Regions from separate parts of the Homo sapiens genome. Here regions 2, 3 and 4 are each reported to be linked to region 1. The links are microRNA targets in miRTarBase. Many come from high-throughput screens and were not tested one by one. Region 1 holds a microRNA gene; each other region holds the end of a gene's coding sequence.
The links. The annotated mature microRNA hsa-miR-5011-5p reads UAUAUAUACAGCCAUGCACUC and lies in region 1 at 2,311-2,331, opposite strand. An mRNA with a match to its seed (bases 2 to 7 or 8) in the 3' UTR can be bound and repressed. Matches are read on the target gene's strand: a 7mer-m8 pairs with bases 2 to 8, a 7mer-A1 pairs with bases 2 to 7 and ends in A, and an 8mer does both.

Region 2: the mRNA of RTN4RL1 is a reported target of hsa-miR-5011-5p. Seed matches in the 3' UTR shown: 8mer at 5,375-5,382, 7mer-m8 at 5,374-5,380, 7mer-A1 at 5,356-5,362, 8mer at 5,354-5,361, 8mer at 5,352-5,359, 8mer at 5,350-5,357 and 15 more.
Region 3: the mRNA of MMP16 is a reported target of hsa-miR-5011-5p. Seed matches in the 3' UTR shown: 7mer-A1 at 1,653-1,659, 7mer-m8 at 1,652-1,658 and 7mer-A1 at 800-806.
Region 4: the mRNA of FAM120AOS is a reported target of hsa-miR-5011-5p. Seed matches in the 3' UTR shown: 8mer at 1,662-1,669, 7mer-m8 at 1,664-1,670 and 7mer-A1 at 3,003-3,009.

Annotation. Positions count from the first base shown.
Region 1 is chr18:67,076,815-67,083,937 of GRCh38, reverse strand. MIR5011 (microRNA 5011) reads right to left here and starts at 2,354; the gene lies at 2,252-2,354.
Region 2 is chr17:1,930,393-1,937,502 of GRCh38, forward strand. RTN4RL1 (reticulon 4 receptor like 1) reads right to left here. Exons shown (of 2, transcript NM_178568.4): 2 at 4,285-7,110. The coding sequence ends at 6,104. Among named protein-coding and RNA genes, the nearest start is that of RTN4RL1-AS1, 84 kb to the right of the region's middle. RefSeq lists enhancers at 1,260-1,825, 1,826-2,390.
Region 3 is chr8:88,035,317-88,042,439 of GRCh38, forward strand. MMP16 (matrix metallopeptidase 16) reads right to left here. Exons shown (of 10, transcript NM_005941.5): 10 at 1-6,479. The coding sequence ends at 6,145. Among named protein-coding and RNA genes, the nearest start is that of DCAF4L2, 160 kb to the left of the region's middle.
Region 4 is chr9:93,441,145-93,448,267 of GRCh38, reverse strand. FAM120AOS (family with sequence similarity 120 member A opposite strand) reads left to right here. Exons shown (of 3, transcript NM_198841.4): 3 at 571-4,936. The coding sequence ends at 657. Among named protein-coding and RNA genes, the nearest start is that of FAM120A, 7.0 kb to the left of the region's middle.

The DNA.
Region 1 (7,123 bases):
GAAAAACTGCTCAACATCACTAATGATCAGGGAAGTGTATATAATAGAATGGCTATAATAAAAAGAAAAAAAGCAGCCAGGCGCAGTGCCTCAAGCCTGTAATCCCAGCACTTTGGTAGACTGAGGCTGGCGGATCACCTGAGGTCAGGAGTTCGAGACCAGCCTGGTTAACATGGTGAAACTCCGTCTCTACTGAAAATACAAAAAATTAGCCGGATGTGGTTGCACGTACCTGTAGTCCAGCTACTTGGGAGGCTGAGGCAGAAGAATTGCCTGATCCCAAGAGGCAGAGGTTGCAGTGAGCCAAGGTCACGCCATTGAACTCCAGCCTGGGCAACAGAGCGAGACCTGATACTCTGCCTCAAAAAAAAAAGTAACATGCTGGCAAGGATGTGGAGAAAAAGCAAGTCTTGTGTTTTGTACACTGTTAATGGAAATGCAAATTAGTTCAGTAATTATGGAAAATAGTATGGAAGTTCCTCAAAAAACTAAAAATAAAACCACCATATGATATAGCAATCCCATTACTAGGTATTTACCCAAAGAAAATAAATCAATTATAGAAGACGTATCTGTATCTCCATATTTATTGCAGCACTATTCGTGATAGCCAAGATAAGGAATCAAGCTAAATGTTCTTTAAAAGATGAACAGTTGAGGAAATTGTGGCATATATATACAATACAATAATATCCAGTCATGAAAAATAAAATTCTGTCATTCTGCCATTCACAGATAAACCTGGAAGGTATTATGTTAGGTGAGATAAGTCAGGCACAGAAAGATAAACACTGCATGTTCTCTCATATGTGGGAGTTAAAAAATGAGCTTATAGAAGTATAGAGTAGAATTATGGTAATCACAGTTTGATAATGTTATTAAAGACAGAGAAAGGTTGATTAATGGATACAAAGTCACAGCTAGACAGGAGGAATAAGTTCTAGTGTTCTATAGCACTATAGGGTAAGCATAGTTAATAATAATTTATAGTGTATATTAAAAAAACTAGAAGAGATTTGGAATATTCCAAACATGAAGAAATGATAAATGTTTGAGGTGATGTTTATCCTAATTACTCTGATTTGATCATTACACTTCATATACATTTATCAAAATATCACTCTGCAGATTATAAATACATACAATTAATATGTGTAAACTAAAATGCAAAGGAAGAAAAACCCAACAAAGCAATTTCTCCACACGTTACCTAATCCACAACAAATGGCTTCTGAAGTTTACCTCAAGTAAAGGCCATAAATATGACTCTTTAAGGTAGAAATCTTAGAAGTAAGAGTTACTTAGCTTAATGCCCTCTAGGTTTATCCATATGTATTTCATTGTAGTGTTAGTAGCAATAAAGTATAGAAACGACCTAATTGCTCATTGAATGGTGACTGATAGTGTTACATATACAGCCATGCACTGTGTATTGCATCAGTCAACAAAAAACCACATATATAAATGTGGTCCAATAAGATTACGATACTGTGTTTTTAGTGTAATTTTTCTTTGTTTTGGTATGTTTAGATGTACGGATGCTATTGTGTTACAATTGCCTATAGCATTCAGTATAATAATAAGCTATACAGAGTTGTAGCCTAGGAGATACAGTCTATGTCATATTGTCTAAGTGTGTAGTACGTTACACTGCTGTGGGACAGGCAAGGCCCCAAACTGGGGCTTAGCCAGGGAGGATTTCTTGCTTAACCCCGGAAAAAATTCAAGGATGAGCTAGGAGTCTTAGCAATCGTTTATTGAATGGTACTGCTCCTTGCAGAGCAGGGCTAAATCATAGGCAGTGCAATCAGAGTCAGCAACATATGGTCTCTTGGCAACGGTATTTATACTCAGCGAGACCCACATTCAATTGCATGCAAATTGAGGGGTGAGCCAATGCAAATTGAGGGGCAGGTTGTTTAGAACTTTCTAAGGCAGGTCAAATGCATGCAAATTGAGGGGTGAGCCAATGCAAATTGAGGGGCAGGTTGTTTAGAACTTTCTAAGGCAGGGGCAGTAACTTTTAGGTTGTTGCCATGGAAAGAGGTGGTAACTTCTGGGTTGTGTTGCCAGGCTGCTCATATTGCTCATTAGCATAAGACACTACCACCAGCACCATGACAATTAAATTGCAATGAGTAGTTAGAGATTGCTTTTGTTGACATCTGCCACTTCCTATCAGTTTCTTCACTTCATGCTCTCTGGCCAGATCCTGTTTTGGTTAGCAGGGTTGTGACCAAAAAAAAGTCCTGCTGAAAGATGAATGGATAGTGTTATATATACAGCCATGCACTGTGTACCCAAACTACAGAGTGCATGGCTGTATATATAACAGCATCCACTCAATACCATCTAGGTTTGGATAAGGACACTCCATGATGTTCAAACAATGATAAAATTGCCTTAAGGTACATTTCCCTGTTAAGCAATGCATGACTGTGTGTGTGTATATATGTATATGACCATGAAATATTATTCAGCCTTAAAATAGAAGGGGATTCTGCCATATGAGGCAACATGAAAGAAATAAGTTCTATTGTTGGGGGTGAATAGCCATGAGAGTGGAGAAGGCCATCAGTTAATCCATGGTTTGTGGCATTGGCCAAGCATGACAAGCAGTGAAACCATATTCAAATATGGAATCAACTTTTCTGACGATGACAACAAACAACTGTTGGCTTTACTATACAAGTCAGAGGCAATTGTAAGGCTCTTTGTTGTTTAATGCCCCACAGGTAAAACTTTTCTGTCCAGGGAATATTCTAGAGCAATACTGTGCAAGAGACCATTGTGTGATAACACGTGTTCTACCCTTGCATAGTCCAATATAGTAGCCTGTAGCCACATGTGCCTTTGAGTATTTCAAATACAGCTAACACAATGGAGGGACTGACTTTTTAATTATTTTAATGTTTAGTTAATTAAACATTAAAATTAACTTTAAATAGCCAAGTGTAGCTCCAAGAAACATCTGGAGCTACCAGGAACTGGAAGAGATAAGAAAGAATTGTCTCCTAGAATCCTGGATTAAATGCAATCCTGCCGACACCCGAGTTTGAACTGGCTTCTAGAACTGGGGGAGAATACATTTCTGTTCTTTTAGCCATTTGTTTTATGCTAATCTGTTATGGCAGCCTGAGGAAACTAAAACAGATGGCTTCGGGGAGAAATTTGAAACAGAAGCAAGAAGTAAAAACAGTAAGAAACAAACAAGTATGTATTCATCACAGAGGTACAGAAATTAACCATCAAATATCCCAGGCCCTAGGGGAGGAAGTGCCACGGTGGCAGCAGCGCTATCTCATCAGACTGTTCCTGTGGGGGGATTTTACTGCCATTCTGGAACCTGGTTTCCATGGGGCTGCCCTGTTCTGAGCCTGTTTCTTTAGCCTTCCAATAATTATATGATTTATCCAATATAATCTATTACCTGGTTTAGGTCAATTGGAATGGATTTCAGTCATCTACAACCAAGAACACTGACAGGTATACTAACACCTGTCAGATAGTATTGTGAATTGTGGGGAAAGTGTTCCTAAACATGACAAAACACAAGAAAGCATTAAAAAATGGTGACAGATATGAGTATTTATGAGTTAGTTAATAAACATATATGACAATTTATATGGAAAACAAAGTATGTGATGCATGATGGATTAGGAAAACATACAATATATGTAACGAAATGATATACAATGTCAATATTTATTTTTAAGAAGCAATACTAAATTACAAAATAAAATATATACAATTCTATAGGAATAGAATGCAAATTACCAATACATACATGAAAATTAGAAAACTTTTGCAATTAGAAAAATATAAATCAAAACAATAGTGTTATACTACTTTTTTCTGAAATTAAATTGCAAAATTAATATATCCAAAGATACTCAACATGATCCATATTAGACATGGATGTGTGAAGAAGGCACTCCAATCTAGGTTTTTAAGGATATAAATTTGTAAAGCCGTGTCTCAAGAATGTGTGACAATAATTCATGAGTGGCAATTTAGTATACGTTAAGCTTTGATCCAGGTAATTTAATTAAGATCTATCTACAAAGATAAACACACTTGCACACAAGTTTCTAAGGGTCAGATGGCTTACTGTACAATTTTCAGGATGTTATTGTATCATTGGTCACATCTTAATTTCTTAATTGTCCATGCCCATGGTTTTATCAGAGAAAATGAGCTAAGAACCCCAGAGACAATGGAGAGTTTGCAATGTAGTTTTTCTTTAATTTTTCATTTTAAGTTCAAGACGTCCGAAGGTGTATCTACTGGCTAGAAAAAATTGATATGTTTCCAATTACATTTCTATACATACATGGATGTGTTTGTGTGTATAGCTTTTTTGTCACAAAACCTGAGGACATACAGATAATAAATGCCTGAGAAGTATGTTGCTCTTCTTAAAATAAAACACATGATGAGTTTCCCTTTTGTTTGAGGAAAGCAGAACAGTGCTTTGCTTCGCATTGAGAATTTATGATTGCCATAAGAAAGCAGTGGTGAGCAGATAAAAGCTGTCACAAAAGAAATTTAAATTGAGCTGAAATTTTTTTTTTTGGCAACAGCTAAATTTTAAAGTTATAAGCAGAGTAACCTTGGGAAATGCCATATATATTAGTATTCTTATTTAACAATGATTGTAATTAAAAGAGCTCATTGCATTAGAAAAGAAAAATCATGCTTAAGACTCTGAAAGTTTAGAATTCCAATAAGGTAAAATAAATGTTACTTCATATTAATGTGGATACTTCATAAATTTTAAAAGTATTTCTGTCTCATCAACTAGAACTCAAAACTTATAGGGCTAAGTACACATTTTTAATTATTTTCTAGTCTAATATTTGAAAATCCACTTTCATTTAAATGATTTCATGAGCTTAATTACCCTAATATACATGGTAGAGTTACGTACATTATCCAGTTTATAGAATAGAAATAAATAAATATATGTTTATTTATTTGTACTGCTTCTGCTTTCATAAATGTAGATGTTTTTTCCTTTTCTTTTGGATAATCATAGCTCTGGTAATATACAGGTGATGTAATATATTTCTTTTTATCATATGCCTTTTTAATTTTCCAAATTAATGAACTAGGTCTAGGATTTCCTTCTACTCTTTATGCTTCTTGCATGATACCTGGCTTATGTTCTCTATTGTTCCACAATCATCGGCATCTATGTTCAACTATGCAATGATTTGTCATCATCCTTGATCTGAAATGATGGGGTATATTAAATTTAATATTTGATAACTGAAGAACATATAGTGAATATCTTTTAGTATTTTAATGAATTATGATCTTTAAAGTATTAATGTATTCTCATTATCTTATTTTTGCATAATCCATAACAACATAGAAAAAAATATCTAACAATTACCCACCATTACCCCATTTTCAAAGTGTGTTCTTCATTTCATGGTAATAACTTGTCCATGTGTTATTGTATATAAACTTTTTCTAAAAGGCAGGGTTATTTTTCTTAACAATGTCCTTATGAATCCTTTACTTAGAAATGATTAGAAAATGAAGTACAATGTTTGGCGATAGAGTTATCTTATTTTGAAACCCAGTTCCCCTAGTTGCAAGCTGTTGGGTGTTAGCTGGTATCTTAATGTCTCTACCTCAGTTATTTTACTTTATAAGAGTGAAAAGGCTCATCTTGTAGAATTTCTGTGTACCTTAAATTAAACAAACAAAAAAAATGAGTAAGGTAGCTATTGACTGAAAAAGAACATTACAATGCCTAGGATTAACTTTCATCATGTTTTGGGATGATTTGTTACAGTTGTATATAGGATCACCACAAAAGATCCACGGCCATACACATCCATGTTTTTGTCAGAATAAATAAACATGTGGGACTCTTCTGACAGTTCTGTTCACATTTCTCTAACCTTGGAGATGGTCTAAAGTAAACACTGTTACAATTTATGTACTATAAATATGTCTTCAAAACCTTACTGCATCTTTTTCCCTGAAAAAAAAAAAGTGACTTCAGGCTAATTGGATAAGTTAGTAAAGACATTTAGATAGAATATTCTGAGGGTTAAATAGTATGTTTTAGTAATAAAATATATAAAACAGTTCCTTCTTTGAGATACAGTTGCTTGAAGTGAGTCTAGAGTAGTCTGAAGGAATCCAAAAGAACTCTGAATTGAAATACTTGTGGGGAAAAGAAAGAGAGATCAGACTGTTACTGTGTCTATGTAGAAAGAAGTAGACATAAGAGACTCCATTTTGTTCTGTACTAAGAAAAATTCTTCTGCCTTGAGATGCTGTTAATCTGTAACCCTACCCCCAACCCTGTGCTCGCAAAAACATGTGCTGTGTGGACTCAAGGCTTAATGGATTTAGGGCTATGCAGGATGTGCTTTGTTAAACAAATGCTTGAAGGCAGCATGCTTGTTAAAAGTCATCACCACTCCCTACTCTCAAGTACCCAGGGACACAAAACACAGCGGAAGGCCGCAGGGACCTCTGCCTACGAAAGCCAGGTATTGTCCAAGGTTTCTCCCCATGTGATAGTCTGAAATATGGCCTCATGGGAAGGGAAAGACCTTACCGTCCCCCAGCCCAACACCTGTAAAGGGTCTGTGCCGAGGAGGATTAGTGAAAGAGGAAGGCCTCTTTGCAGTTGAGATAAGAGGAAGGCATCTGTCTCCTGCTTGTCCCTGGGCAATGGAATGTCTGGGTGTAAAACCCGATTGTATATTCCATCTACTGAGATAGGAGAAAACCGCCTTAGGGCTGGAGGTGAGACATGCTGGAGGCAATACTGCTCTTTAAGGCACTGAGATGTTTATGTATATGCACCTCAAAAGCACAGCACTTTTTTCTTTACCTTGTTTATGATGCAGAGACATTTGTTCATATGTTTTCCTGCTGACCCTCTCCCCAATATTACTCTATTGTCCTGCCACATCCCCCTCTCAGAGATGGTAGAGATAATGATCAATAAATACTGAGGGAACTCAGAGACCGGTGCCGGCGCGGTCCTCTGTATGTTGAGCGCCGGTCCCCTGGGCCCGCTTTTCTTTCTCTATACTTTGTCTTTGTGTTTCTTTCTTTTCTCAAGTCTCTTGTTCCACCCGACGAGAAACAC
Region 2 (7,110 bases), not on the chromosome of region 1:
CCAAGCACATCTTGCAGCAGCAATGTCAAATTCTGCCGTTCAGGCATGCCATTAGTGTGCACGCTGCCACACAGGAATCGGTGACACAAAGGCACATCCTTCCCCACCCTCCTGGAGCTTAGAAACTAACGGCTCTAATGAGAAATGAGGGCAGAGAGGAGAGAGATGGGGGCGGGCCCCCTCCTTGTGGGCTGGCGCTGGTGTCAGAGGAGGCTGACCCACTTCTTGTGGTGGTGAGGGGCCTTGGCGGCCAGCCCACTGAAATGCCACTTAAACCAGCCGCTGCTCCCTGCACGAGGGTCTCCTTTGTCCAAACCCCTCACTCGGCGCTCTTGGAGAGAGCCCTGTCCCCCTGGTAGTACAGCTACTCTCTCTGCCTCGCTTCCTTTTCTCCCCCAGGGTCCCTTCACCTCATGGGCTCTTCAGGGCCCAGACTCCCCTGCCTTCAGCAGCCCTCTCTGGAGAGACCGGCAGGACCGCGCGAGGGAGGGTGCTCAGGTGGCCATGCGACGCGCCGAGCCTCTCTTCTTTTCCCGGCTTTTTGATTGTGCCGTGAGTTATTTAGCCAACAATAGATGTTTATGTATTTTTTTAGAGCTCATATTTATTAACAGCCTGGGAAGGAGGAGACCGGGAGATTTATACGGAAAGCACGGTGAGTTAAAAGGGACAATTAGAGGAGCAGAAAGATACCGAGCATAGAATTCTAAAGGATATTTTAACGCACAATCAAAGGTTCTTGAGATATTTTCCAAGTAGACAGAAGGTAAAAGAAAATTGGCCCATTACGAGCTGATAGTGGGGGATTGGTGATGGGGATGGAGTCGCGGCTGATGGCTGAACTCCTGCTTAGAGGAAAGTGAAGTTAGAGGGCAAGGCGGGGAGCTGAACCGGGTCAGGAGGCTTCAGAACGGGGGCTGGAAGGGACTCCATCAAAGCATGCACCCACCCCTCCTCAAAGAATGAACACCAGCCAGGTGCGCTGGCCCAGCCTGTAATCCCAGCACTTTGGGAGGCCGAGGTGGGCGGATCTCTTGAGGTCAGGAGTTCGAGACCAGCCTGGCCAACATGGTGAAACCCTATCTCTACTAAAAAGTTAAAAAATTAGCTGGGCGTGGTGGCTCGCACCTACAATCCCAGCACTTTGGGAGGCTGAGGCAAGTGGATCCCATGAGGTCAGGAGTTCGAGACTAGCCTGGCCAATGTAGAGAAAACCCATCTCTATTAAAAATACAAAAATTAGCCGTGCACGGTGGCTTGCTCCTGTAATCCCAGGTTCTTGGGAGGCTGAGACAGGAGAATCGCTTGAACCCGGGAGGTGGAGGTTGCAGTGAGCCAAGATCGCGCCACTGCACTCCATCCTGGGCGACAGAGCAAGACTCTGTCTCAAAAAATAAATAAATAAATAAATAATAAAACAATTAGCCTGGTATGGTGGTGTGTCCCTGTAGTCCCAGCTAATCAGGAGGCTGAGGCAGGAGGATTGTTTGAGCCTCAGGAGGCTACAAATAAACGCAGAGAAAGACTGCCTCCCTAGGTCAGCATAGAGTAGGACAAATAAACGCAGAGAAAGACTGCCTCCCTAGGTCAGCATAGAGTAGGGCCCGGAGGAGCTGGGTCCCTGGCAGAGAGGTGGGTCGGCTCATGGGCTGGTGGGGCCTGCCTGGGAAGCGGGCGTGCATGTCCAGGGGAATTTGCTGAGGGCTCGGTGGCTCCAGGGAGCCTCCGCAGCAAACTCCTTCCCTCTGACCCCAGTCCCTGCAGCTTGCCCTCCACGAGGCCTCCCGGGCTCTCCCGCTCCCCCCAACCTGCTCACAGGCCTTCCTGGAGCCCATTCACCGTGGCGGCAGAGCGCTGGTGATTAGCTGGGTGATGAGTAAACATTTGCTAAATGGGATTCTTGGCTTTTGCAAAGAACAGCCCCGGCAGGAGAGGAGGGGTGCGGTTGGTGGGAGGGGCTCTGGGGCTGGCTGATGGTCACAGCCCGCACAGGCAGAAGCGCCGGGGTGATCTGAGCTGCTCCGAAGTCAGGAGGGGCTGAGGGCGGCCGCGGCTGGGAAGCAGGGAGCGCAGGCCGTGGAATGCTTCCCAAGCTTGGAAGCAGCAGGTGTCTGGGAATGGGCCTGTGGCCCAGGCAGACTTCCAGCGAGCGCTCCAGCTTGCTGGCACCAGGGGAGGATCTGGCTGAGCCCAGGAGGCAAGTTTCCACCATGAAACCCACTGTTGAAGAACCGCGGCAAGGTTGCCACGGTCAGAAACCACGTGCCTATGGACAGGCTGGGGGGGGTGGGCGGGAGGACGACCAGGTCGGGGGGACCGCACAGCCCCTCCACTTCCACGGCAGAGTGGAGTCCCTGAGCAGAGTCCCCTGGGCCGCTCCCATACAGGGCGCGTCTCCCATGCCCTCAGCTGGGAGTGGTTTGTGGATACCCCAGACACAGTGCTGTTACCACCTCTAGCCCTACTCCCCACACTCTTCTCTGGGTGGCTCCTCATCCTCCAAGACTCATTGGAGTGTCACCTCTGCCTGGAAGCCCTCTCTGACTGCCCCCACCCAGCTGAGCTCCTCATTTTGGGGGCCGAGGGGTGCTACCACAAGCGCCAACTCCATACCAGTTGCGAATACTTGTTTCTACATCTAGGCTCTGAGCTCCTTTTGCCCCGAGCCACGTCTTCTCACGTTTATGTCCCCAGAGCCTGGCCAGTGGCTGGACACGGAGGTCCCTGATCAGCCCTTGTTGAATGAACTATGCAGAGCCAGCCAAGCTCTGGGGTCAGGGGAGGAGCTTGTGTGAAAGGCCTTAGAGACCACCAGTGGCCATCCAGCCCCTCCGACAGGGGTGGCTCTGTCCCCATCAGTCCACAGTGGAGGCCTTCAGTGGCCACCCAGCCCCTCCAACAGGGGTGGCTCTGTCCCCGTCAGTCCACAGTGGAGACCACCAGTGGCCACCCAGCCCCTCCAACAGGGGTGGCTCTGTCCCCATCAGTCCACAGTGGAGGCCTGTGTGGCAGGAGGGCTGGGAGGGAGAAGAGATGACTCCCTCTGGGGGTCCAGGGAAAGTGGGAAGATGGCAGCGGAGGGGTGGCCCCCGCCTCTGGGAAGACCACAGGAATCTGCATCTCCATGCCCTGAACCAGACGCAAGGGGCTGGAGCTGGCGAATAGAGAAGCTTTTGCCTCGCCCCTGACGCGTCCAGTTGCTTTGATGTTTGGGGCGATGGTGTCATCATAACTGCGTAGCATGAGCTGCTGAGTGACAACTGATGTCGTCTGCAACAGAGCTGCCTTGATTCCCCCTACCTCTTAGAGGAGAAAGCTGCTAAAAATACCTGGCGTCCTGGGCCCCCACTGCCTTGCCTCTAATAACAGTCGGCAACCAGAGACTGTGCTGTGCTTGACAGAAGCGGATCATTTATAAAACATTAGCATTTCTCGTACTGACATTTCACTTCCATATTACAGGACTTCCTAAGTCTTTTTTTAAAAAAAAAATTAATAAAGTGCTTAGACTCTTGATTTTCCCACTGAGGGCCTTGCTGTCTGAAGCTGGAAATGAAATCAACAACACAACAACATCCTTGGGTTCTAAGGGACAGCCAGGCCCTAGCACCTCGGCCTGGGTCAGAGCCTGCAGGCCACAGGGGAGCAGGTGCAGGCTGAGGATTCTTTGGTCTGCAGTCACTGGGCTCCCTTTAGTGAATGCCCCAAGCCTCATACTGAGGAGGATTTGTCCAGCCAGGCCTGAAAACACAGCCTTCCTCCCTCTATCCGGGGAACCCTCTCCTTTCTCTGAAGCCAGAGAGACGTGTGCAGTCTCCAAGCCCACCCACAGCTGTCCGGGTGGGTCCCTAGCCTCCTGGAAAACTCCTTGGGCCCCAGGTACTGACTGTTTCCTTGCAGCCGCCCGTCCCCACCAGCCGCCTGCCGGGCGCCCTGAGGATCAGTCACTTAGCCATTGCTCCGGAGACTCCCGGGAATAGGCCAGGAAGGACCCAGGACCAGCCTCCTCCGGGGAGAGCCACGGAGATGGTGCCGACCCGGGGCAGTCAGAATGTGGAAAGTGAATCATGATCTGTGCGGGCAAGGGAAGTGCCACGAAACGGAGCACCAGGGTGTGCGTGCTCTCATGTGTCCCGTGAATCAGTGCGCCCCTGCCCCCTGCGGCTCCTCCCGCCAACAAATGTGCTGTGTTCCCAGAGCTGTGCCCGGCCAGGCTCGCCCACCCACAGAAGCCCAGGATCTGCCACCTGTCGGGAATGCGGGGTTAGGAAATGAAAAACAGGGTTCTTGTCCAAGATCATTTATTGTTATTATTATTTTTCTCTCTTAATTGGATTCAGCGTTTCTGGCTCCTCACACACATCCTCTCTGGTGGGGGATTCAGGTTTGTGCAAAGCACAAAGGAGCTTGTACCCACCTGGGCCCCCGGCCAGCAGCACGGCCGGCTTTGATCGGAGCCCCTCTTCCCTGTCCGGGCTCGCCTGCCCCAGTCCCTGCTTCTGACCCCTGAGTCCGGCCTCCCGAGCCTCTGCCTGCACCCTGAGCATCCCCAGGACGGCTGGGAGGGCCAGGTCTTCCGTGATGCAGAAGTGCCTGAGATGGTTCATGAAATGCCCTCATTGTTCCCCTTCTGCTAAGGCCCCCGACGCCTCCCTCCTGCTGTCCCACACAGGGCCCTTGCTGGGTCACACACCAAACAGCCTCAAGGAAAAATTCAGCAGCTGAGCCGTGCGGGAGGCCTGGGCTCAAGCCCGGAGTCTCCTTGGCCCGTCCAGGCCGTCACTGACCAAACGCTAGGCTGACGACACGGTCCGACCCTTTGGACTAACACTGTGGATGCTGCCTGGCCTGCTGGTTTCCAGATCCCAAAGCCCCTTCCTTCCCCTTCTCCATCTCGCTCACCCTCGGGGCCTGGCTCCCTCATATACAATAAGCTGCTTCTCACTTCTCACCCTGAAGCCAACAGCTACGACAGCAGGGGTGACAGGGCGCTCCAGGGTGGCAGACAGGCTTGTGTTGCATATAAAAACAAGGTGATGCTCTAAATATCTAAGAATATTGGTCCCCCAAAGTGACTCTTGCTGCCTCCCCCTTCCTCACCGTCCCGCCGACACCTTGCCCCAGGCCCTTGGCAAGGCCAGGTCCCTTGGAGACTATCGTTGCCAGTTTGGGATTCTAGACAAAAATTCTATCACTTTGTTTTTGCTAGAAATCACCAATACAATCCTTAGTTCAGCAAATACAGTTTTCTGTATAGTTTATAAACATGAAAAGACGTACAGTTAGGTAACGGAGTGGGAGGGGGACTGTGCATTTGTGTATATATATATATATATATATATATATATATATATATATATATGTAGAGTGTGAATATATATAAGTGGACGTAGTTAGTTATAAAACTGCACCTTCTGTGAGAACCTCATTGCCCGGGATGAAGTTCTAGATTTCAGCCTCTGATGATCTTTCCTTTGGTAATTGGTTCTTGGACCCCAGCAGTTGGACCTGGGTCTGCCAGGGTTGCCTGAGACATCAGGAATGAGAGGCGCTACCCCCGAGGGAGGGGCTGAAGGTGGAGTAGGATAGAATTCAGGGCAGGGTGACTGGCCTCAGGCAAGAGCCAAGATGCCACCTGCTCGTGTGTGCCCAGACTGCTGGCCACCCAGCCTCGTGGGTGAGCCTCATTTGTTCTTCTCTGCGTCCTGCTTTCTCCAGGAACCACGGGGCCCTCCAGACCTCTCGGAACGATCGGGATTCCACAGAGCCCCGGTGCCGCCGTCGGGGGCAATTGTCCCACTGTTGCCAGTGGAGGATGCACTTGGAGTGCCTTTTCCCACCTTGCCAGAGTGGACACTGTCCGTGGGCGCTCTGCGGGGCTGGCTGGGACAGCCGGCTGAGAAGCGCCACCCCCTCCCGCCTAGGGCTGTACACTTTGGGTTTATAATCCACATGGCAGGGTCCAGACGTCCAGACAGCAGCCGAAGGCTCTACCAGCCTTTTCCTGAAACCCAGCAGATCTTCCACTTGTTAAAAAAAGAAGAAAATAAATTCTGTTCCTTGGTGGACATGTGGCAGTGCTGGGTGCTGACGCCCTGGGTCCTCAGCGGAGAGTGACCGCCAGCCCCAGTGTCCAGGCCAGGAGGGAGGCCCCCAGGGAACTGGCCGAGGAGGCCTGCTGCACCCCGCTGGGGGCACGGATGGGGGTCCTGCGGGCACACTTGCCCTTCCTCTTGGGCCGGGCCGTAGGCATGATGTCAAAACTGAACTTGTGCTGGTAGTCTGGGGCATAGTCTGGCAGCTCGGGGGCCTGTTTCCCGGCGCCCGCCTTAGAGATCTGATTGCGGTTCCTGGGGTTGGTGCAGTTCTTCCCCGGCTTCCTGTGGCCGGGCCGGGGGCCGTGCGGGTGGCCCTTGCTCCTGGTGGGGCCGTGGGGTGAGTGGTGTTCCTTGCGGGCGGCCCTGTCGGTGGTGGTGAGCGTGTGTGACTTGATCTGGTGCGGGGACGCTGGTCCCGTGCAGTTCCGGAAGTCCTCGGCCCTCAGCAGCTTCAGGTCCTGGCCGTGCCGCAGCCCAGGGGACACACAGGGGACAGCGGAGCTGGAGCCCCGGAACCTCTGCAGCCATTCCCACAGGGAGCGCGCGCGACAACCACAGTCCCAGGGGTTGCCGTTGAGGCGGAGGAACTCCAGGGCCCCCAGCGGGGCCAGGCACTCACCCTGCAGCTCCGAGAGGCTGTTGTTGAAGAGGAAGAGGGTGGTCAGCCTGCGGAGGTCGTGGAACGCCTTGTGGTGGACCCACTGCAGCTGGTTCTCGTGCAGCAAAAGACGGTCCAGGTTCACCAGGCCCCGGAAGGTGCCCGGGCCCAGACTCCACAGCTTGTTGCCGTGGAGAAACAGGTGGCTGAGGTTGACCAGGTCCACGAAGATGTCGTCCTGGAGGTACTCGATGTGGTTGTCCTGCAGGTAGAGGTACTGCAGGCTGTGCAGGCCGCCAAAGACGCCGGCCGGCAAGGCGCTGAGCCCACACTTGTAGAGGTAGAGGGCGTGAAGCTTCACCAGGCCCTGGAAGGTCTCGGGTGCCAGCGTCCGCAGCTGCCGGTTGTCGCCGA
Region 3 (7,123 bases), not on the chromosome of region 1:
AGTTTATGATGTATTTTCCTATACTGTTCAATGTGCCCTTTAATGTGAGGACACGCTGAGTGCACATTTGAATATCATCCCCAGTCCAATGATGCATAAAACAAATTCTAAGACACACTCATCTTTAAGTTGAAAAGGCATAGAATCCTCAGAAATCTCTATAAATAAATGTCTTTCATACATAACTTTTTATACTTACTCTGCACTGACCATGAGTTCTGGTTTATGCCCTTATTTGCCTTAGAAAACATTAGTTATGAATGTCTGTGAAGTCTCCGTTATAACACTAAGCTTCTGTGATCTTATATCCTTACTTAGTATAAATAAATAATATTGTTCTAATAAATGATGCATGTCACGTCCAGTTATAAGCCCATAATTGTGTTTAAAAATTGAAGACTGCTATGTACTTCTGTATTCTACTCAAACATTGACAGGAATTTTACAATATGTGTTTTTCCCTTAATTTCTGTGAGTATGTCCAATCAGTGTTCATTCTTAGGCTTTCTATACTATTGGTTTAACTTTCAAAGTAGACATACGTATAAAATATTGAAACATATATTTGTAATTGGATGTTATTAATCTTACCTGAAATATTTCAGAATTGTTTCAAAATCACACCAGTGGAAAAAGTGGAAAATGATTTCAGAAGTACATGAAAGACAAAGGTCACAATTAGATGAGACTAGAACATGAAGGCAACTTCTTTGCTACTACGCCAAGTGTCTTAGATTACATGAGTATTGAGGTAAATTTCTATTTCAGGGAAATGGCTTGTCTCAGGGGATTCTAACATTATATATCTTTCCAACTTGAGGTTACTGAACACCTACCTCTTACATTTTTAGCCTGTAAGGCAATGCATGAGTATCAGATGTGTTTAAGCACAGTAACATCTAATGACCACTGGCTAAATATTACATTGATATATCACATAATCATCACTAGTGCAAAGAGCTTGAAGTTGGATTTTTTTCCTCCACTATTTTATGCTTGCTAAAGTAAAATTTCCAGTTGTATTATCAAGGAGTGTTATAGTTTGTCTTTATATTTAACAAAAGACTCATTTTTCCTCCTCCATTTCCATCATATTATATAAATATGAAAGCTAAATATAATAATTAGCTTTCATATTTGTTGCGTTGCTATTCCTGGTTGCCGCTTTATTTATTACATAAAATTCTAATTTTTAAGATATAACTGTTAAAAATTTTCTGATGTAGTTATGATTCCCTCCTAGGCAACGTGGAGCCTGTAACTTAACTGCATATGCTCTGGCACCTATTTCCTGTGGTCACAATATATCAACAACATGAAGGTACATGAAATACAGCCGAATGATTAGATCCTCTTATATGATTGACTTGACACATTTTGTGATATTACATATTGGCTGAGATTGCTGTAATAGGTCATCTGAAATGCACATTTTTGGTTTATATAGCATATTCTATTTGACATCTGTGATACTTTGGAATATGCCCTTGAAAGCATCAGAAATGAAATAAGCTCTTTACTGTGTTTGCTAAAAAAGACCTTACCACCATCCAGAAGATTGTTTCAGTATATACTACAATCTCACAGACTCAATACTACCAGTAAATAATTCCCTTTATTAGTTTCTGGAAATGATTCCAAAAACTTTAAAATATATATTTTTTCATGACTCAGTTTAACTCAGTCTGTCTGTCTGCTTATAACATCCATTCCTCTTCAGATAGCACTTTGAGTTTAGTTAATATGGACACACTATTTATTCCACTGTAAGATCCACAAAGTGTGGGCGTGTATGTGTACCATACTAGATATATTAGCATAACATGTAGAACTTGCAAATATGACTACCCCTACAATCCAGTTTACACACCATCATCTATGTATTGGAACTAGCAGTGAAGTTTGGACAATGTTCTTATCCACCACATTGTGTTTTTTAATGACCCACAGAGAGGGAATGAAAATAGGTACACAGTATATGAAATGGCCAAATTATGTGTTAACAAAAAAAGATTATAGGTAATTATTAAAGGTAACACTTGCTTATGTGTTAACAAAAAAAGATTATAGGTAATTATTAAATGTAACACTTGCTTATTTCAGTAAACCAGTCTGTATCTTTTATTACTTAGTAATTATTTTTGGTAATCATTACTTAGTAATTTATCACATCGATTCAGAAAAGCCTTGCCCTCTGATTTATAACAGAAGTTGTCTTTGCTAGTATCACATAATGCTGTCTAATTTAGCTCTATAACCTTTGCAATCAGAAAGAGCATCTGTATTCACCTGCTCTGACTGCCATGTCAACAGACACTGTTCTGAAATGAGTCAATAAATTCACAACCTTATCTACAATTCTGATGCGGAATTACTGCTTTACAGGAAATTCAAACTGATCAGCTATTTTAATACTTCATTGCATTTGTTTAATAATACACAGAACAACAATATTTTACTAAAATTCTTAACTATATGGTCATTTTACATGAAGACCATTACCTTGTTTACATTTGTGTTTATATTAGATAAAGTAATGAGAAATGAAGCAGAAGGAGAATTATTTTTGCAGGCATGAATGTGTTTTCATTTCAATTTGGGAAATCCTATGTCTGAGCTTTTCATGTTATTAGTGATGGGGTGATGAAAATATTTTATGCCTTGCATATCTCTAGTAACACTGAACTGACACCTTATGTTATTGACCCATGGAAATTTATTCTGCATTGGTTTTGAATCACTATTCTTATGTGCTAGATGAATTACTTTCCCTTTCACTGTTCCATTTGGTTTGAGACTTTTTTCCCAAACCTCATGTAGAAGAGGAGTCAGGAACCATACCCACAAAGTAGCTGGTGTACAATAAACAAATGGAATCCCACTGTTTGTGATTACATTGTCCTTATTGTCTTCTTATCTCTTGTAATAGTACAGCCTGATAACTGAAATGTTCTGTTCAAAAGAGCAGCCTTATATGCCTTTGCTTATCACATAAATCTTGTCTCATATTAAAGTAAATATGACCCAACCCTTATTCATGACATTTGCCAGAATTCAAGCATAATGATAGACTCCTTCCTTCTTAATGCTATGATTATTTTCTAGCCCTTATATACTGATAGCCTTATGACGAATCAGGATATTGTGATGAATGAGTAAAGAGGCAACAGATTGCTTATTCAGTTTCTTTCTCATTTTAGAGGAAAAAAAAATCAATTTTCAATGCAGGGTGATGGAGTTCCTCAATGATTTGCACATGTCCCAAAATGACACAGTTCCTCATTTCTATCTTTAGCAAAATATAGTTTCCAGTTATTTTTTTCTTGACATCAAGGCCCTAAAAGGATTAAACCCTCCCACAAGCAAACACTGTATAAACGAGCTTATGTATATAGTCCTCCATGCTTAGCAGCAGTGACTAACTCTTTATAATATCAGCATCATCTAGAATGGAAGCACTGAAGTAAAGCTACAGGGCTGACTCTGGTTCTCATTTCTTGCTTTCTTGGCCCTTGCGTACATAATCTCCAATATCCTCTTAAAATATTGTCTGCATTGTATGATATTTTACTGTAAAGCCATTCTTCTTTTCTTACTCTTCTTTTTTCTTAGGCTCATACTATATACGCTCAGGTTGTAAGAAATAACAATCTGCAAGGCTTTGCAGCATGCCACCCACAATTATAAAATATTTTCCCCAACCAAATCATAAACATGTAGTTTAACCAAAAGGCATTCTAATTTTCATGCTACGTTGAGTATAAATATAAATTCAAGGCAGCCAAACTATCCATTTCCAAATAAGAATGTATACCTACACTCATTAAAAATCATCTGGAAATGTGTATTAGCAAATGAGTAAGAAATTTTTACTAGTATAAAATTCCTGCTTTATATAAAAGCCACACTGGCCATTCAAGTATTTGAGGTTTTTTTTTTCCTATAGTTTTTGTAATTTGTACTAAAATGATGAATTTAGACTTGAAATTATATTAAAATGAAATTAAAATTCACTTCTACCTATAGGGCATTTTCAGAGTGTGCATGTAAAGAGCAAAGTGTCCATCTGCAGATCTGCCATCACCACTCTCTCCACTCTAAGGAAACAGCTCATGCTTACTAGGTTTTAGAGAACAACTAATCCAATGGAGAAGCAACACCAGATTTCCTTCAGTTTGTGCCAGTTTGCAAGTTAAAGGTCAAAGGGCAAAGACATAGAACAGGACTCTTCAAGGAAAATTTTCACAGAAGACAATGTTTAAGTTGTTGTTAATGACAGTCAATAGATCAATAATCAAGTTCAAGGCAAGCTGTTCATTGTTTCAAAAGCTAATCCCCTCAAAGCTGGCTTTCACACAAAGCCAATGTCTGACTCATGGGGTGCATTCATTCTGACCATCTCTAATAAGTTCACAGCCCAGTGGCTGTAAAGCCTTTCACTGCAAGAAGCAGCTCCTAAAAATCAATAAAGAGGTCTGTCAGTTGCTGACTTTTCTCTAGGAAAAAAATATTGATACAAACCTGCTCTGCAGGTCACATGAAAATGACAATACTGCTGTTAGGACAAATTACACTCAACAATGAAATGCTTTGGTGGTCTCTTGGCTCTGTCAGTGATCAAATGGACGGCTAAATGCCAGAAGCCACACTAACCCTTTGAGAACTATGGTGGACATGCAATAGGTAATGCACTGGAGGATATTCATGCAACTTCAGAGTCACCGTTTTAATTCATTTTTAAAATGGCAATGCTAACTGCATATACCAAGGCAAATTGAATTTTCATGCAATGGATTTTAAAACAGAAATTCAGTATGCCTAAAAAAAAGAAAAGAAGACTTAGGCTATTATCAGTTTTTCAAATAAAATTTCAGATTTATGAGAATCTTAATAAAATACCTTTTTTATTTGCCAGAAAAATTTTGGCAAGTAACATCATTTCTGTTTGTTATAAACACATTTATGTAGTCTTGTAAATCATTTAAAAATTATATGACATTATAGGATATCTGTTTTAAAAACCTGAACTTCTTGAACTTGTGACTGTTTTTACCATTGCCCAGTTCTATAATTTATCAGATCGCAAGACCGACAATCCTAAGACTCTGAAAGCTGGTCTGATAGTTCTCAAAGGGTTACACGGGTATGTTACTAGTGTCACAAATCCTTGTAAAATAACTGCCACTGTAATCCACTTCAGAGACATACTGCTTCTTGCTCTGCTTTGTAACGAATATTCCTGACAGACCCATGGAAGGCCTGGGGCAATGGCCTAATACAACTTGGGAAGATTATCACAATGATGGAGGAGTAAGGTGGAAAGAAGGGGTTTAGAAATACTTCAAAAACAATTAAAAGGTCGTGTTTGAAAATAGCTATGAATATAAATGCGATGAAACACTGAGGACATAGCTGAGAACAGCTGTATAAAACGAAAAATGGATGTATTATTAAGGCTGTTACTATATTGCAGATATTTTGGCCCCTTGGTTGTTGGAAAATGGCTGTCCCAACAGTCTAACGTCCTGCATGTGTATTCCAAATCTCCCACCTGACAAAATGGTGCGTAGGAGACTATCCAAAGCAGTCAGAGAGCTATCTTCTTTGGAGACAAAGCTGTTTTGGGTCTTCACACTTTCCTGGAAGTTCAATTGTGGGTTTTTTGTTTAAACTCTTTTTTCCCTTTGTTTTAAAGCAAAAAAAGAAAAAAAGAAAAAAAGAAAAAAAGAAAAACCGTGGGTTTTCTGATTTGCTTTTTTTTTCTCCCCCCAGAAATGGGCTCAGACTTCAGAAGGAAAATAACATTAGAAACTTTTAAGAAGAATCTTTTCTTCTTTTTCTCCTCTTCTTTAGTTAATCCTGAAATTTTACTGGGCATTGAGCGTGCAGAGGAAAGGCCTAGAACTGAATGACAAAGAAAGACAAAGGACTGAAGAACAGCAGATACTGTGCATCATGGAAGCTTCCCCATGAGTGTATTTCCACTCATGTGCAGGACCAGCAACCCTCTGGGTTTGAAAGGTCAGCCCCGAATCAGGCTGCCACAAGCCTGCTCCTAGCTAGGAAACAGCATAACAGCTCTTGTCTTGAATCTCAAGTTACCACAAACTCCTGCAAAAGAAAGAAAGAAGAAAAAACCCTACATCACACCCACTCTTGCATAGAGCGTTTACAGTACAGTATGTGGCGGGGTGTTCCTTTCCTCTTGAACTGGAACACAGTGTAAACCAATACAAGGAGGCATAAGGCCAAGATGCAGGGAATGACAATAGCTATGGCTTTCACAGTGCTGGCTGTGTTGTCCAGTTTGATGACAATGTCTACATCATCTGGTGGGCTGTGTCCTTCTTTAACTCTGTCTGTTGGTCCATCACAGCCCATAAAATCCTTGAGGATGGATCTTGGATATCCAGGTTCTACCTTGAGTATCTGGTTGTTGAATTTCCAATACTCCTTTCCTTTGTAGAAATACGTAAAGCCTAGGGGGAAAAACATACACACACACAGGTACCACTTATTTGTGACAGTGTATATGTAGAGAAATGTTACTAAAATAGGCTATGTCTTAAGAGATGTATTTTAAGGCCCTTTAATTTTCATAGGAAGAAAACACTATTTTCAGCTCAGCTGTCTGTTAAGATGGCTGTGGCTGCTGTGCTCCAGGAATGATGCCATCTAATGCCTATGGAAAGCTCAGTCCAGAGAGAGAAATATCATTTACAGAGGACTGTTCAAAGACCATGCTATGCAGTCTACTCCTAGTCCAAGCTAGAAAAGAGAACCTTATCTTTTTGCTCGCTTACAGGATTGCTGTTACAAAATTACATATTAGTGTGATAGTACCAACCTATATTGAAAGATGCTGAAACAGCCTTATAAACTGAAACACTGTTTACCCTCAGGCTGTTACTGGGAACATTGTTCAATATATGATAAAGTCGCTTCTCTATGAAACACCTCAAGGGAAATTTCTAATCATCTTAGTATCAGGAATCTGTGCTCCTTCTAAACAACAGGCTTCCTTTTGTAATTTGCATGAGAAATCATAATACAATGAAATCATAAAACTGGAGGGGCTTTCATTTGCCTGCAAGGAATCTTAACAAGTAAAGACGTATTCATA
Region 4 (7,123 bases), not on the chromosome of region 1:
CTTGCCTCTGCCTCCCAAAGTGCAGGGATTACAGGCATGAGCTACCGCGCCCAGCCTAATATCATTAATTAATATTTTACTTAGGTGAGGTATCTAACCACCAACAATAACAGATGAGTTTCCAGTTTTTCAAACAAGGTAATAAGAGACCTTAATGCTGCCCATGTAATCATTAGCAGATGTTGGGAGACCAGCAGACTGGAGCTAAGCAGGGAGTCTGCGATCATGGAAGAGAGCAAATTAATCCACACTAGGGATTCTAACCTATAATGTTTACCTAGCACCAGCCCTGTTAATTAATTGTCAATTTAAATTACCCAGAAGAACACACACATCTGTAGGCCTGCTTCATAAATGGTAGATCAGTAACTGACCACACTGCAGCCGTGTATCGGCAGTTGAGTTTTTTGGTCTTCAGGCTCTGCTATCTCTCCAGTACTATGAGTTATCAGCAGTAGCAGAGGGTAGGAGAGCTCCACAGAGATCAATATTCGGACTCTGGAGACCATGACAAAATACATTTCATATTCCAAACTAATATATAAACTACCTTTTTTTTTTTCTTTTCAGATTTCCAGAAGCTGTTCTGTCAATAACAAAGTCTCAAAGAAAACCACAAAACCACCAACACTAAGATCATTCTTGAGTCCAATTTGAAAAACTAGGGTCAAGTTCTGCAGAGGCATTGAAAGGACAAGAAACCACCCTGATACCCATCGTGTGAGGGAAAATGCTCTATTCACCATTCCTCAGCTTCTGCTTCTGGTTTCAGAGTTCTCTCTATATTGGAGGGTGTTTTAAAGCTAGAGTGGTCTTTATCCACTTTTATTAACACATCTGAATGTGAAGGTCAAGAGAGGAAAGTGATATGTCCTAAGTCAGAGTAGAGTCAACAAGAAAATAAGACAAACAGCGACTGAGCCCCTGGTGTATACTGGGCATTGGCCAGCTACTGGGGATATGGAGATGAAGAAAACATAACCCTTCTTCAAGGAGCCCAACCTACCAAGGTAGACAGACATATAGACAAATAGATACTTGCATAGAAAAAAAGAGGAAAAGGGGATCAGTGTGACCTGTGTAACTAAGTACCCTATAAACCCTCCTGCAACAGATCATATTGCCCTTTATAGTGGGGATGGTAATCCCATCTGAATTCCACAGGTACTTTGCAGTCATACCACACCCATGTGTCTGTCGGTCCTGACTGTACCATTTATAAACAGCTTCACTTTCAGCAGTTCTCAGCCCTCTTAAGCTAGGGTCATTGTCAGTAGGGATACTGCTTCATAAGCACCAGCAGAACACCAAAGGAGACCATATGGGTGAAAGCAACCAGCACTGCCCTGGCGCTTCATAGGTTCTTAGAGTTTTTATCTTTTACTTTCAGTCTAACACAGCACTGCCTGCTTTTTGTTTTTGTTGCTTGGTTTGTTTTTTTCTTACCGTGTTCACCAAACTTGTGTCCAAATAGCTTTGGGCTGATGCAAAAATATCTATGTGGAAGAGAAGAGTTGTTCTCATGGAGGGCCTTCAGATGAGTGCTATAGACTCTCTAGGCAACTCCAAGAGGCTTCTCAAGCAGGGTGGGCAGTGAGAGCTGCTATGGAATCAATGGACAAACTGACAGGGACTGCTTTGAAAGACAGTACTCAGTTGAGTATATATATTCTCTCTTAAGGGCTAAAAGTTTATAATCATCCCTTAAACACTCTGTGATGGGATCTTCAGGATCATCTTTTGAAGTAAACTATATTTTACAATGTGATATAAATCAAGTGAGTTTTTTTTTTAATTAGGAATTCCCGTAAGTATAAAGCCATTTTAAGATGTACATTTTAGAGACTAGCTATTGTTAAGTGGTCTGTTACATTTGTGTAAACCATAAAGATCTTTCCAGAGGAAGCAAGTCTCTCATACCAGAATATGAAAACACTAGCCCCAGGCTTGAGTAACCTAGATCACATGAAGCTGACTTCCTCTGAGGAGTCTAGGACCTCAGATATAGGTGGGAGCACACAATCACCCTTCTGGAAACAGCTAAGACTTGTGGCTCAGGCGTTTGACCTTGCTGACAAAGGAAGAGGTCAGGGTTGACGAGAGCTCCAGGAAGAATGAAAGTGCCTCTGGAAGGCAGGAAGAAAGTTACTGTAATACTTTATCCTTAGGGTGGAACAAGAGTCTGGGAAAGCTCTGCCCTATAAAGTCCCCTTCCCCATTCCTCCCAGGTCCCAGGTGTGGTGGTATAAGGAGAGTTGGCCCAATCTGGGAGCTGAGGGATCTGAGACATCCATCTACTGCATCAGTGCACTCAGAAGTGAGGATTTTGGCACAGTTATTCATGAGACATCAGCCCATCATATAAAACATGCCTCCAGTTTGGTTAAACTAGGAAGCACTATATAATATTTTAAAATCAGTTACATGTCACTGATAAAAGACTTAGTATTACCATGATGTTATTTTTCTTGAGGCAACATGATGAAACCCATTGTCTACAAAAAATCCAAAAATTAGCCAGGTGAGGTGTGCACCTGTAGTCCCATCTTCTCAGGAGGCTGAGGTGGGAAGACTACTTGAGCCAAGGTGGTGGAGGTTGGAGTGAGCCCAGATTACACCACTTGCACTCCAGCCTGGGCAACAGAGTGAGGCCTTGTCTCAAAAAAAAAAAAAAAAAAAAAAAACAACGATTTTTATGAAAGTTGGAGAACCAGGATTAAGACTGGGTGGGAACTAAGAATGACAGGTACTTTTAACAATACAGCTGGGATGCTGTTGATGACATGAATGAACCCCACTCTTACTGTAGTCATTTGCTCAAGATTCAAAGTCATGAAAAAGAGTAGAATGGACCAAACTTAGGTACTAAGAGTCCCCAGCCTGGCAGTGAAAACAGTATAGTTCCTTTGACTTTAATATGGGGAAACAGGTTCCTGGATTGACGATCTCACCAAAACTATACACAATTTTTTTTTATTTTTTCTCAGACCTTTCAGGGATGAATATATACAATTTCTGAGAAAGAAACCTGAGTACCTTTAGGAAGGGAAAAGGAATGCTGAATATCCCCAAATAACATGTCTTACATGTTTGGTAAGACTTACTGTACCCTGTCCTAGAAGATAGAAGATGCCCTGCCCTTAGAAGACAAAGAGACTGTAGAGCTATGCCTTCTAAATCTTAAGCCACTCTTCAGATAATGGATCCCTTCATGGTCAGCCCAAACATCTCAAGAACTTTTAATTTGTACCGTTTGTCTTTTTTTCCATTTATTTAATACCACAAATTCACTTTATTATTATGAAGCCAATATCTACATCTTCTCACAAAGATTCTCTTAAGAAATGCAGAACTGGCCGGGTGCAGTGGCTCATTCCTGTAATCCCAGCACTTTGGGAGGCCGAGGCGGGTGGATCACCTGAGGTCGGGAGTTCAAGACCAGCCTGACAAACATGGAGAAACCCTGTCTCTACTAAAAATACAAAATCAGCTAGGCGTGGTGGCACATGCCTGTAATCCCAGCTACTAGGGAGGCTGAGGCAGAAGAATCCCTTGAACCTGGGAGGCGGAGGTTGCGGTGAGCCGAGATCGCACCATTGCACTCCAGCCTGGGCAACAAGAGCGAAACTCCGTCTCAGGAAAAAAAAAAAAAAGCAGAACTCCTTACTGGCCTCAAAACATACTGTGACATTTCCGTAACCTACAGGTCTAGAAATCCTGTGCCAAATATGGTTAACTTGTTTGCTGAGAAGGATGTGGAAGAACTGGAACCCTCATACACAGCTGATGGGAAAACAGTCTGGAACTTTCTTAAAACATTCTGGTAAATGGGGGCCCGGCAAGCTAGAAAGTGTGGCTATAATCCCTTGCTTTTTTCCTTTTTTAAACTTTTTCTCTCTCAGTCCTGACCTAAAGATGACCCTAGTCAGGCTGGACACGGTGGCTCACGCCTGTCATCCCAGCACTTTGGGAGGCCAAGACGGGTGGATCACCTGAAGTCAGGAGTTCAAGACCAGCCTGACCAACATGGAGAAACCCTGTCTCTACTAAAAACACAAAATTAGCTGGGCGTGGTGGTGCATGCCTATAATTCCAGCTACTCGGGAGGCTGAGGCAGGAGAATCGCTTGAACCTGGGAGGTGGAGGTTGCAGTGAGCCGAGATCGCGCCATTGCACTCCAGCCTGGACAGCAAGAGCAAAACTCCGTCTCAAAAAACAAAAACAAAAACAAACAAAAAAATTCCCCTGAGAGAAAACCTGTCTTTCCAGCCAGAGGAGCAGGAAAAAATGACCCTATGGTCTGAAGAATGTGGAAATAATCCATCTTTTTTTCTCTCTCTGCTTTCTGCCTGAGGGGCGTTCCTTTTGGCAAAATGAGCAGGCAGTGTAGGCAGGTAATCATCAGAGAGAAAGCCCATCTTTCTAAGCCAGAGGATGAGGAAAAGGGGCCCCCTGGGTGCCAGGGAGTCTGGGGGGAAATCCTGAAGAGCAAAGACCTGAAAAGAGGATTCTCTAATTCTGTACATGAGCTGAATTCCGTGCTCAGCCCAGAGCTGCACATACAAGAGACAGAGCCCAGGCAACACAGCCACACTCTGAACTGACACTCGGACCACCACCACCAAACAGAAGGCAACGCAGGACCTGCAGACTAAGGCTAACGAGGCTGATTGCCTGACAAAACAGAAAAAAAAGAAACATTCTTCAGGGAATTTTAGCAGAACACAGAGTCTCCCAACATAAAACAGACAGTCCTCACTGCACAGCAGTTCAGAACTGTAAAAATGACCTTCCAACCTGAAACTGCCATGTGCTGTTCATAATCATTAATGGGTAAAATTGTGATTTTTTTCCTGTCTTTTGAAAATTGTCAAAACATTGATAATCTTGTACTGTTAGAAATGTATAAGGAAACAATAAAGTAAATATTTTTGTACACTGTAATTTAAAACATTAGCAACACAGGGAATTAAAGTGCTTGATGTCTTCCTAAAAAAACCATCAACAGACATTTAAACAGTGCTTGCCTTCTTCAAAAGTCATGTACCTTATGATATAGAGGGAGCACCTTTTCTGTGTTCAAAAACTTGTCATGCCCCTTCTAAGTTTGGATCAGCTTCCAATATTTTATCCTTTTTGCTTTCAATGTCATGAAATATCTCCAAGTCCCTTTAACGTGAAGGTTTTTGCTGACGTTCCTTCCTCTGGAACATCTTCATCCTTTTCATCACAACCGCTTTCTTCATTTATTTGAGGAATTCACCTTCTCGGCAGCAGTGCCAGCATCCCCATAGTCTGTTTCTTCAGTGACCCCATTTATGTTTGATTTGCATTCACGTTCAGTGTTTTCAGTTTGAGTTTCTTTGCTGCATTTCTATCTTTATTTGTCAGTTTTCTCTTTTGAATATCCATTTGTGTAAAAATGCCATGTGGGTTTATCACTGGAAGACAAGGAGGCCACACAATTCACACTTTGCTGTCTGTGCGTGAAATGAACACAGATGCACAGTGACCAATCACCCGTAGGTTTTGGAAAGAAGAGGCATGATTGGTCACTGATCATGATGTACCTGTGTTATTATGTAGTGATTTGTGGACTGGGGAGCTAGCAGAAAGTTTGAACTTCATGCAATTACAGTTAATATATTCTGGTAACTCAAATTTGAACCATGTTGTCAGGGGACTGGTGTTCACCATAATAACTAAAATTTCAGAATCATGAAATGTCACTTCTGATATAGTCTATTCATTAAAAGTCAGTCCTAATTCTGGCTCACACTCAAGGGGAGGGGAATTAGGCCCCAGCTTCTGAAGAGAGGATCTCCAATTAATTTGTGGACATATTTTAGGATTCTTCAGGAAGTCCATATTCCTGAAGAATATTGGCACTGGGTATAGAATTTTGGATGGATGATTCTTTCCTATGAGTGCTTTAAAGGTATTGTTCCACTGCATCCTGGCCTACATGATTTTTTATTATATGTCTGAGATAACCCGTATTTCAAATTGTTCTTCCCTATACCGAATGTGTTGGGTTTTTTTCTGGCTACTTTCAGGATTCTTTCAATCTTTGGTTTTCAGCAGTTCGATTATGATATGCTGAGCATCTTCTTTGGATTTTGCTGAGTTTCTTGAATGTGTATTTATATTGTTTGTCAAATTTAAGAAGTTTTCAGCAGTTATTTCTAAAAACTTTTTTTGTGTCTGCACCAATTTCTCTTTTCCCTCTGAGACTCTAGTGTCAAAAAATACGTGATTTTCTGGTGTTGTCTCCCAGGATCCTGAAGTTCTATTCATTCTGTTTAATCCATTTTCTCAGTGTCCTCTGGTTAATTTCTACTGATCTGTCTTCAATTCACTGACTCTTTCTTTTGTTATTTCCATTCTGCTAGTAAGTCCATCCATTACATTTTTTAACTTCAGAAATATAATTTTTTCAGTTCTAGAATTCTTAATTTTCATAGCTTCTGGGTCTCCATCAATAACTTCTTTCTTTCTTTTTTTTTAGGCAGAGTCTCACTCTGTCACCCAGACTGCGATCTTTGCACACTGCAACCTCCGCCTCCCAGGTTCAAGCAATTCTCCTGCCTCAACCTCCCGAGTAGCTGAGATTACAGATGTGCATCACCACGCCCGGCTAATTTTTGTGTATTTTTAGTAGAGACAGGGTTTCACCATGTTGGCCAGACTGGTCTCGAACGCTCAACCTCAGGTGGTCCACCCGCCTTGGCCTCCCAAGGTGATGGGATTACAGACATGAGCCACTGCGCCTGGCCCTTTGTTTTCATCTTAAGAGCACAGTTATAAAAGTTGTTTTAAGTTGTTGTCTGATGATCCAAGATCTGAGTCATTTTTGGAATGACATGTGTTGGTTGTCTTTTTCCTTGTGAATAGGTCATACTTACCTGGTTGCTTGCGCATCTAGTAATGTTGGATCATATTCTGGATGTTTTGAATACCAAGTCCCAAGAGTCTGCAACTTGTTAAAATCCCTGGAGAAGACTGATTGTAAGCAGACAACCAATTCAGTTAAGTTCAGATGACAAACTGTCTCCCCTTCTGTGGTGGTGGTCCCGGTGGCACCACTTCAAGTTTCAAAGACTCTGTTCACTTCTCTGTATCT